Homo sapiens: one gene and its partners. The protein of the gene in region 1 purifies or fractionates together with the protein of each later gene. This does not show direct contact. Each region holds a gene or a part of one and is shown in the gene's direction. Other genes may lie near its edges. The genes, in order: EEF1AKMT3, SMC1A and CAMK1D.

Region 1 (3,727 bases):
GCTGGCATTACAGGCGCCCGCCACCACACCCAGCTAATTTTTTTGTATTTTTAGTAGATATGGGGTTTCACCATTTTGGTCAGGCTGGTCTGACCACTCAATTTAAAATTTCATTCTCCAGCCACTCAATTTAAAATTACATTCAGGCTGCCAAGACTTTGTCCTCTATGCCCTGGGGTCTCTGGACCTTCCAGGTAGGAGCCGAGAACCCTTGGTTGGTCCCTCTAACTTGCATTTCTCCCCATCCCTCAAGCAATTCTTATCCCCCTTCCCTGCTTGGGGCTTCACCATGGCATATATTACCATCTGATGTACAGTGTATTTTATTTTATTTATTTTGTTTGTTGTTATCATCTGTTTCTTGCCACTGGACCATAAGCTCTGTGAGGGGGGATTCTTATCTTCTTAGTTCATCATTATGTTCTCAGCACTTGGCATATAGGCACATAATAAATATGAATGAATGAATGGATTCCTAGTACTTCTTGCTTCTCTTTCTATCATAGTCATCATGATTATGATGCAGTACCTAGTGTGTCTCTACCTCTAGAATGAAACAAAGAAAGCTGTGTTTTTGTCTTGCTCACCTTATATACCCAGCACTTAGAAGGTTCTCCAAATTATATCTACTGCATGAATGAAGGTTTCTGAGATGCTAATCTGACCATCTTCACCCGTTTCTGCCCTTAAAGCTTACTGCCCTCAGTATCGAACCTGAATCTTCTTAGCATGTCATAATCACTTTCCCTTTGTCTCATGTCTTGACACTTTTCTCCCCCTTCCACATCCTCTAAGATGCAGCCTTTCCTGAATATGCCATGCTCTTTCACTCCCAGGCCTTTGTACTCACTGTTCTCTTCTTGGAAAGCTCCACCTGACTAACTCCTACTTGTCCTTTAGGGCTCAGCTGAGGTCACATTTTCTGGGAAGCTTTCCAGACCCTTAAGGCGAGCTTGTGTCAGTGGGGGTGGGTACAGAACCCATCTCCAGCTTAGTCCTGCCCAGGCTTCTGCTGACATCTGATTGTTGTGTGTTGGCCAGAGAGGTTGAAGATTAGCTCAGAGAGAATGTTGATGTTGTAGAATGTAGAGTAATGAGAATAGCAGTGGGTGAAATGGAGGTTGAGGCAACTAAAAGCCAGTGTGGGCTCTGGGCTGTCAAGACATTGTCCTCTATGCTCTGAGGTCTCTGGACCTTCCAGGCAGGAGCCAAGAACCCTTGGTTGGTTCCTCTGACTTGCATTTTTCCTCCTTCCTCTCTCTCAGGGGGGGATGTTACCATCACTGACCTGCCCCTGGCCCTAGAACAGATCCAGGGCAACGTCCAGGCCAATGTGCCAGCTGGAGGCCAGGCCCAGGTGCGTGCCTTGTCCTGGGGGATTGACCATCATGTCTTCCCTGCAAACTATGACCTGGTGCTGGGGGCTGATATCGTGTACCTGGAACCCACCTTCCCTCTGCTGCTGGGGACCCTCCAACACCTGTGCAGGCCCCATGGCACCATCTATCTGGCCTCCAAGATGAGAAAGGAGCATGGGACAGAGAGCTTCTTTCAGCACCTCCTGCCCCAGCATTTCCAACTGGAGCTGGCTCAGCGGGATGAGGATGAAAATGTCAACATCTATAGGGCCAGGCACAGGGAACCAAGACCTGCTTGACATCACCCTTGCTGTTCTTCTCAATCTCTTGCTCTAATGAAGGAACTGTGTATCTCAAAAACCATATTTCCAGAGCCACAAACATGAGGACCAAAAAGGATGGATTTCCCTGGCCTCTCTCACTTTCCTCCTTCCCTCTTTGTTACCCCAGATACTCTTGGGCAGGTGCAGTGAGGTGCCTGCTTACAAGGAATCCCAGAGTTCTGGCAGCACTAGTGTTAGAACACCAAGGAGGTTCCTGGCTCCTGTTCTCAGAGAAGGAGGATGGTAAGGTATCCAGGATTTTTAGGGGGTAAGGGAGATATATGGGATGTGAGAGCAGTGATTGTAGACAGACTGTCACTGATCACTTCCATTCCTGTTGCTGTTTACACAGAATGGACTTTAAAAAAATTCTGTGGGATTTTTTTTTCTTTTTTTCTTTTTTTTTGAGACAGGGTCTCACTCTGTCATCCAGGCTGGAGTGCAGTGGTGTGATCACAGCTCACTGCAGCCTCAACCTCTGAAGGCCCAGATGATCTTCCTGCCTCAGCTCCCCAAGTAGCTGGGACTAGAGGCATGCGCCACCACACCCGGCTAATTTTTGTATTTTCAGTAGAGACAGGGTTTCGCCATGTTGCCCAGGGTGGTCTCAAACTCCTGGGCTCAAGTGATCCACCCGCCTTGCCTCCCAAAGTGCTGGGATTGCAGGCATGGCCCACTGTGCTAGCCTAGGATTTTTTTTTTTTTTTAAGAAAGAATTAAGCCTTAAAAATCTATTGTGCAAGAACCCAACTTTTACTCAGGAGCTGAGAAGGAAGAAGCCTCAAACCACCCATTTCCTGCTTTTTAGAGATAGAGTCTAGTGGAACCATGGCTCTAACTGGGTCAAGTCCTCCTAGCTCTGAAGCTAAGGCTGCAGAGCTGTCCTTTGGACTGTATTTCTTCATGCTTTCCAGAGTTAGAGCCTTGATCACGGAACATCATTGTGTGCAGAAGAATACTGTACCTAGTACTAAGTTCTTTTCATCTTTGATTTTTCTTTAGCTTCATCAGTCCTTCCTTCCTAATCTCTAATCCCCTGAAGCCTAACACAGTTCCTAATGTGTTTTGCCTTAACCTCTTTTCTCTTCCCACATTGGTACTTCTGGTTGGGGCTCTCTTTACTTACTGCTTAGGCACATAGTCACCTTCTCTGGACTCCCTGCTTCCATGCTTTCTCCTTCAGTCCATTCCGCAAACTCTTGTGATCTTCCAAAATTAGCTCTGATTAGCTTTCACTTCCTGTAGAAGCAAGAACAAGCTCCTCTGCTTGGTACTTAGTCTGTGTCCATGTGATCCAAAATTACCTTCCTATTGCATTTCCTACTCCTTTGCTACGTGTATTGGACCTCTGGCCAAATTACAAAAGATGTACTCTTTGTTCTCTAAAACCACACTAAAGTTTTCTGACTTCTTTCACACTCTTTATGATAATCCTCTGCCTGAAAGGCTATTGCCACCTGTCAAAATCTTCATTATTCTTTGCCTCTTTCCTGAGCCTCTTGCTTGAATGTGATTTCTTTCTCCCTGAGACCCATAAGGTTCATCTTATGGGACCTTAATTTGTCTTGCATGGACATTTGTGATTCTCATTTTCTCACCATTAAATTACCTTGGAGGGTAGGGCTGTGGTTTACTCCTGTCTAAACCCCTGAAGCCTAACACAGTTCCTGGCACACAACAGGTGTTCAACAGATATTGTGCTCATTCAATAAATATTTACTCGCTTTGTTTAATGGATTCCACCCCTGCCTTCCTAGGTGACCTTGGACAAATTCTCGAACCCATTCACCAACCACACAAGTTTGTTGTGAGTCATAAATGGATAATGAATATAAATGCGCATTGAAAATAAACATAAAATGTTACCCACATTTCTTGTGTTGTTGTTTTGTGACGACTTTATTTCTTGGTTTCTGTTATTTTACCTGGGGTGGGAGGTGGGGGGTAATTCCCGTATGAAATGTGTCGTCTCAAGAAATCAAGTAGAGGCGAGGACTGTGTTCCTCCGGCCAGCAGGTGGCACCATACTCGTTTGGTGCGTTCCGC
Region 2 (3,727 bases), on another chromosome or scaffold:
CCTACCTTGTGCCAGGTTGTCTTGTGCTAGGTATTGGAAGGGGGACAAGGGAGATGGAGGTAAGACAGATGAACACAACACAGTCTTTGCTGAAGGAGGTCATCCCTTGTACCCTGGGCTTCAGTTAGCAGTTTAGCCCTTTGCCCATACAGTAAATATTCATTGCTGTCCTACTTCAAGCCAGTCTCAAGGGATATAGAATTGAATCAGACTGTATTTCTTTCCTCAGGAAACATATAGAGTACTGGGGGAAACATCAATTTGAGGACAGTGTGATCAATGGTGTAATTAAGGTAGATACAAAATACTGAAGAAATTTTCAAGGAACTGCAAATCAACAACAGGAAAAATAAAAAACAATGACAAGAAACCCAATGGAAATGTGGCTAAGTACTTATGATACCCAATGCAATGAAAAAAGTAAAAAAAAAAAAAGTGGCAAATAATATAGATAGGCTTTCATGGAAAGAGAAGTTCAAGTGGCTAATGACCATAGGAATTGAGGTCTAACCTCTTAATCAGAGAAATGCAAATTTAAAAGTCTGACAGTATTAGGTGGAAATCTATAGATGTCCTGTGTAGTATGTGAAAAAAATATATGTGTATATATATAATGTATATATATACACATATATAAAACCTATGGGTATATATCCCTGAGAGAGTCTTGCCATAGGGTCCCAAAGAGATACACATTCAGTGTCATTCATCTTGGCATAACTTGTAGTAGTGGGACATTGGTGGCAATGTAGATGGCCATTACTGGGGGAGCATAAGTCAAATGAATATATAGACTGGAATACTGTGTGGGAGTTCACAGCAAGAACTAGATTTGTGGGCAGTAATGGATAACTTATAAACCTGGTATTGACCAGAAAAAAGAATAAAATTTATAACACAGTAGATTTGTGTAAATTTTAGAACTAAGACATTTTACAAGGATATGCATTTTTAAGGAATGCATGTGTGTATGTCACTTTGTGGTGCATGTTCACAGTAGGGAAGGTAATGGGAATGGAAATTGGGGATTGAAACAAAGAGGACAAGGGAAGGGTCTTGCCCAGGCAGTGGTGATAAGTGTGTTATGAACTGTGGGATATGATTAACTTGCTTCTGCACCTAAAGTCTAAAAAGGGAGGAACCCAACAAAGTGTAATAGAAACTAGGAACCTGCTCAGAACCGTCAGGAAAGGTTTTACAAAACAGGGAGTGATGACTGGAGACCTGAAGAGTGAGTAGGATTTAGCCAGCCAGGCAGCGACAGAAAAAGTGAATTCCAAGCAGAGAGAACAGCATGCTTGGAAGTGTGAGAGAGCATGCCTTGTTCTGGATACTAAGTAGTTTTTAATGTCTGGAGCATAAAAGCAGGGTCAGGAAGAAGGTGGGGAGTGGTGGAGAGGTCAGCAGGGGCCGGATCACAGAGGCCTTTGTGAGTCATACTTAGGAGATTGGATATAAAATTGCATAGCTCAAAATTATAGAGTTAGTTATATTTCATTTGGATTATAGTGGCTAATAGGTTTAAGCTGCTAGCATGACATCTGGCAACATCTGTCACACCATATTGGGAGTTGGAGAGGGCAATTGGAAGTTAGTCCTGCCTGGCCTGCCAGTGCCTGTGTATGCTGGTTGCATACTCTTGAGTTTCTGAAGAGATGGAGAGGAGGACAATAGCAGGAATCCAGTATTTTCTCCATGTTTTTGTACTATCCAAGTTCTGCCCTTTAAGAGGTTCTGGGACCTTGGGGCAGAAGTTGGGATGCTGTAGTTGAAGCCCTTGGACAAAAGTAAGCTGAGTACAGTCAATATACCTGGTGATAATGGTAACTAAAATTGATTGAGTAGTTATCGTGGACTCGGTGTGGTTCTAAGGACTTTATACATATTAACTCATTTAAAAATCTCCCAATAACCCTGAGGTAGGTACTATTATTATGTTCATTTTGCAGATGGGGAAACAGGTCTGGAGAGTATAACCAACTTGCCTGAATGACATTACTAGTAAGTGGCAGAGTTGAGATGCCAGTCTTCTTAATCCACTACATTATGTTGCAGTGGTGGTATACTAGAAAGAGCCCGGGTTTTGGTGTTAAATCTGGGTTTCAGTCTCACATGTGCCATTTACTAGCTGTGTGGCCTTGGGCAAGGTCTTTTACCTCTTGGCCTAAGTTTTCCTCATTTGTAAAATTAGGATAATAATGCCTACTTGCAGAGCTGTTGATTAGAGGATTAGAGATAATGTATGTAAAGTACATAGAAGCCTAATAGGAATTACCATAGCTGGTAGAATCAGATGGACTCTTTTATGCCTCCTTGTAGGAACTTGGAGGGCGCTGGGGTCTTCATTGTTTAAAGGGGGATAAATAAGGTTTGGCCGAATCTTCCCTGCCTTATGCCATGTCCACAGGGCTAGGCTGAGGAACTTAGTTCTTCAGCTTCAGGGGACCGTTTTATGTGCATATGGATGGATGAAGCAAGTTGTGACTGAAAATCAGTAACTCTGGGTCCCTGAGCCCTGGGTCTAGTTTCCCTTTCTTCCCATAGTTGGATTTTGTACATTGGTTATCTCTGGCTGATGAGATTATGAGTGATTCTCCCCCCACCTTTATACACAGTTTGGAGTTTGAGAATCAGAAGACTCGCTTGGGCATTCAGTTGGATTTTGAAAAGAACCAACTGAAGGAGGACCAAGATAAAGTACACATGTGGGAGCAGACAGTGAAAAAAGATGAAAATGAGATAGAAAAGCTCAAAAAGGTAAGGAAGGAAAGAATTAAAAGACAGACTAATAACTGGGAGGAAAAATGGGAAGAAATACGACAGACAGAAGGATAATGTCCACAACTTAGAAATTTCTCATCTAAATCAATAAGAAAAATACCAAGACCTAAACGGGAAAAATGGATAAATGTCACAAACAGTTCAAGAAGACTTTCAAATAGTCCCTAAACACATACAAATAATTTAGTCTTACTAAAGAAATGCAAATTAAAGCAACAATTAGATACAATGTATTTTGTAACACATCGTGGAAAATGTAAAAACAGAAGACACAATGCTCAATACCAGCCATGGTATAGGAGACCAGTATTCTTTTTTTCTTTTTTTGAGATGGAGTCTTGCTCTGTTGCCCAGGCTGGAGTGCAGTGGCACTATCTTAGCTCACTGCAACCTCCGCCTCCCGGGTTCATGCCATTCTCCTGCCTCAGCCTCCCAAGCAGCTGGGACTACAGGTGCCTGCCACCACGCCCAGCTAATTTTTGTATTTTTAGTAGAGACGGGGTTTCACCATATTGGCCAGGCTGGTCTCGAACTCCTGACCTCATGATCCACCTGCCTCGGCCTCCCAAAGTGCTGGGATTACAAGCATGAGCCACCGTGCCTGGCCAGGAGACGAGTATTCTTATGTAATGTGGCACCATCCTTCAAGAAGCTTCACAATGCATTTATACTCTGTAACTCAGTAGTACCTGAGGAGATCATCCAAAATGCTGGCAAAGCTTTATGCAAACACTTTGATGTTTATAACAAGCATTATTTATAGTTCCAAATTGGAAACTACTCAGTGCCCCTTGGAAAGTGGGAATTTAGCAAATCATGCTACGTTTGTAACATTATTTATGTAGTGTCTTCAAACTTTAGTAATACACAGACCCTTTTTAAAGGAAAAATAGTCCCTAAGATTGCCAGTGTTGCCTTAAATCCGTGATGTTACTTAAGTATATAT
Region 3 (3,500 bases), on another chromosome or scaffold:
ATGTGGGAGCCTGCCTGGGATTTTGCAGTGAGCCGAGATTGCACCACTGCACTCCAGCCTGGGCGACAGAGTGAGACTCCGTCTCAAAAAGAAAAAAAAAAAAATCTGCCCGCCCCCACCTCCCAAAGTGCTGGGATTACAGGCGTGAGCCACCTCACCTGGCCGAATTCCGGATGTGTTTTAAAGGTGGAGCTGGTAGGAATTGCTGGTGGACTGGATGTGGGGTGTGAGATTCCCCAAGGACCTGGGCTTGGACGAACAGTTCATTTGGTGGTTTTGTTCAGTTTCCCCAGGAATTCTCGGAGCACCTGCTCTGTCTACACATTATGGGTGCCCGTGTGCTGGGAGGCTCTGGAAACGGGCAAGCACACAGCCTTGGGCTTCTGGGCTCCCCTGGGGAGGGATTTCTGAATTTGAAGGTGAAATTCTCAGAGGGACTTTGAGGTACCTCCTCTTTTGAGGTCAGGAGTTCGAGAGCAGCCTGGCCAACGTGGTGAAACCTCGTCTCTACTAAAAATACAGAAAATTAGCTGGGTGTGGTGCTGTGCACCTGTAGTCCCAGCTACTCCGGAGGCCGAGGCAGGAGAATCGCTTGAATGCTGGAGGTGGAGATTGCAGTGAGCTGAGATTGTGCCACTGCACTCCAGCCTGGGTGACACAGTGAGACTCCATTTCAAAAAAAAAAAAAAAAAAAAAAGAAAAGGTGAAGATAACAAACTTCAGTGTCCTTATTGATTAGTAAAATGAGATTTGGGAAGTGGGAGTTTGGGTAGAGCTTGTTCCCAGAGAAGCTAATGATGACTGTGTCTCAAGTACAAATTTCTGGTTCGAACTTGGCCACTGAATGGACAGTAATTAGGTTTGCTGGTGCCAGGTGGAGATTTGTGTGCTCTCAGGGGAGGATTTCAAGGGTTAACTTGTTGAGTTTTCCTTTGGCTGGGTCTCTGTAAATCTCTTTAATCTTTCCTTTCCCCAAATAAATCTCCTTAAATCCCCTTCAATCTCTCTCCTCCTGCTTCTCCTCCTCTCTCCTCTGGGAGGGCTTAGGCATGGGTCCAGCGGAGATTTGTCACATTACTGGTCAACTTGCCCACCGGGGATATGTTTTCTTTTTTTACTTTTTAAGTTTTTATTTTATTTTCTGAGACAGAGTCTTGCTCTGTCGCCCAGGCTGGAGCGCAGTGGTCCAGTCTCGGCTCACTGCAACCTCTGCCACCCGAGTTCAAGCGATTCTCCTGCCTCAGCCTCCTGAGTAGCTGGGATTACAGGTGTTTGCTTTTTTTTTTTGAGACGGAGTCTCACTCTGTCACCCAGCCTGGAGTGCAGTGGCGTGATCTTGGCTCACTGCAACCTCCGCCTCCCGGGTTCAAGTGATTCTCCTGCCTCAGCCTCCCGAGTAGGTAGGACTACAGGCGCGTACTACCACGCCCAGCTAATTTTTGTATTTTTGGTAGAGATTATGTTTCAACGTGTTGCCCAGGCTGGTCTAAAACTTCTGACGCCAAGTGATCTGCTCACCTCAGCCTCACAAAGTGGTGGGATTACAGGCATGAGCCACTGCACTCGGCCATTATGTTTCTTTAATTAATGAAGGAACTGCTTATAGGCAGCCACCATGAAGCTGGTGCCCGAGTCAGCGGACCCACGTTATTTTCCTGATGCAAGATGGTCAATTCCGTGCTTATTTAGTGCAGGAGGACACGTGGACTCCGGGAAAGATTCCAGCCTGATCTCGGTTCACGTTGGCTATGCCCCTTTGACTTTCTGTGGTGAGGGAGATTTCTTTTTCTCCGGGGTAGTTTTTTATTAGATCTCACTTGATTTTCTTTTCTTTTCTTTTTTTTTGGTTTATTATGCAGTGTATTGATTATTCAGGCTCCAGTTAGATCAAAGGTCACCTCCAAATACATGCCGTAGGTCAAGTTCATTCCGCCACAGACCAAGTTCATTTTATATCTTCAGCTATCTGTTCTCTGTGTCTTGTGCTGTTTTTCCAAATCTTTCAGCAGGACTTAGAAATGGAGAGATTCCAGCCTGGAGTGCTGGCTCACAACTGTAATCCCAGCACTTTGGGAGAATGAGGCAGAAGGATCACTTGAGGCTGGGAGGTTGAGGCTGCAGTGAGCTATGATGGTACCACTACACCCCAGCCTGGGTGACAGAGAGAGACCGTGTCCCCATAGAGAAAGAAAAGAAAAAAGAAATGAGGGACCCAGTACAGTGGCTCATGCCTGTAATCATAGCACTTTGGGAGGCTGAGGCGAGTGGATCACCTGAGGTCAGGAGTTCAACACCTGGCCAACATGGTAAAACCCCGTCTCTACTAAAAACACCAAAATTAGCCGGCATGGTGTTGCATGCCTGTAATCCCAGCTACTCGGGAGGCTGAGGCGTGAGAAACGCTTGAGCCTGGGAGGCGAAGGTTGCAGTGGGCCGAGATTGTGCCACTCCACTCCAGCTTGGGCGACAGAGTGAGACTCTGTCTCAAAAAATAAAAGAAAAAAGAAATGGGGGATTCTGTCTCCTGGTGAACACTGAACCTTGAGAGCAAGCCTTTGATAGGGTATATTTGCTGAGGCCGGGTAAAGGAGGCAACGTAACATAACAGAAAGATCGTTCTGGTGCAGGCATTCATAGCTGAATGCCTCTGGATAGATTCCTTAATCTCTCTGAGTTTAAGAGGGAGATAGGAGTTGCTGCCTTGTGGGATTGTTGTAAGGATTCAGTGACATATGTGAGGTACCTGGCACATAACTGGGATTGAATATACAGTAACTGTCATCAAGCTGTAGTTACCTCCAGCAGCTGAGGTTGGCTTCCCTTGGACATTTGGGGCAGGTTCCATTGGGGAAGAACACGTCAGTATCTGTTGGAAATTGATTTTTTGGAAGCTCTTGTTGCAAATAGGCAGGATGGTGCATATTTAACCTCCCCCAAAATTTATGGTTTCAGCAATCATAAACAATTCTTCAGTCAGCCAGAGAAGAACAATCCACAGTTGTTCTTCCTGGTACAGTGAGTAGCTAAGAACATAGGCTCGGAGGTTACACGGATATGGGTGGAAATCCTGGGTCCACAGCTTCCTAGCTGTATGGCTTTGGGCCAATTATTTTACCATTCTGAGCCTCATGTCCTCATCTGTAAAACAGGATGACACTTGGACCTAATGTGAGGCTTGTGGTGAAGATGAAATGAGGGTGCACGGGAACCACTGAGAGCCGTGTGTGGCACGTGGGTGTGTGTGCAGTCAATGCCCGCTCTCTATCATTTATCCCTGCCCCTCAGAGGCCATTTCCACAGATTTGGAAGGCCCGCTGAGCCATTCAACATTTGCTCCCAACAGGGGTGATTAGTTCATGTAATGCTAGCATTAAGCAAAAGACTCTGCCTGAAACGTCCTCTGGCCCAGCTCCGGTGCTGGAGTGACCTAGTTAGCTGTGTGTCCCAGGCTCAGCCCTCCCCCTGGGTAGCTTCTCGGTTTTTTTTTTTTTCTCTGCACC

Evidence for each region.
Region 2: the proteins of EEF1AKMT3 (region 1) and SMC1A purify together in Homo sapiens (affinity purification with mass spectrometry; 2 studies listed by BioGRID and IntAct, with this or other methods). This does not show direct contact.
Region 3: the proteins of EEF1AKMT3 (region 1) and CAMK1D purify together in Homo sapiens (affinity purification with mass spectrometry; one large-scale study listed by BioGRID and IntAct). This does not show direct contact.

What each region holds. Positions count from the first base shown.
Region 1 is NC_000012.12:57,778,990-57,782,716, forward strand, and holds the end of EEF1AKMT3 (EEF1A lysine methyltransferase 3), read left to right. Parts: intron 1-1,265; coding exon 1,266-1,657; 3' UTR 1,658-3,552; downstream 3,553-3,727. UniProt on the Homo sapiens protein: Protein-lysine methyltransferase that selectively mono-, di- and trimethylates 'Lys-165' of the translation elongation factors EEF1A1 and EEF1A2 in an aminoacyl-tRNA and GTP-dependent manner.
Region 2 is NC_000023.11:53,398,619-53,402,345, reverse strand, and holds part of SMC1A (structural maintenance of chromosomes protein 1A), read left to right. Parts: intron 1-2,615; coding exon 2,616-2,757; intron 2,758-3,727. UniProt on the Homo sapiens protein: Involved in chromosome cohesion during cell cycle and in DNA repair. Central component of cohesin complex. The cohesin complex is required for the cohesion of sister chromatids after DNA replication.
Region 3 is NC_000010.11:12,356,047-12,359,546, forward strand, and holds part of CAMK1D (calcium/calmodulin-dependent protein kinase type 1D), read left to right. Parts: intron 1-3,500. UniProt on the Homo sapiens protein: Calcium/calmodulin-dependent protein kinase that operates in the calcium-triggered CaMKK-CaMK1 signaling cascade and, upon calcium influx, activates CREB-dependent gene transcription, regulates calcium-mediated granulocyte function and respiratory burst and promotes basal dendritic growth of hippocampal neurons.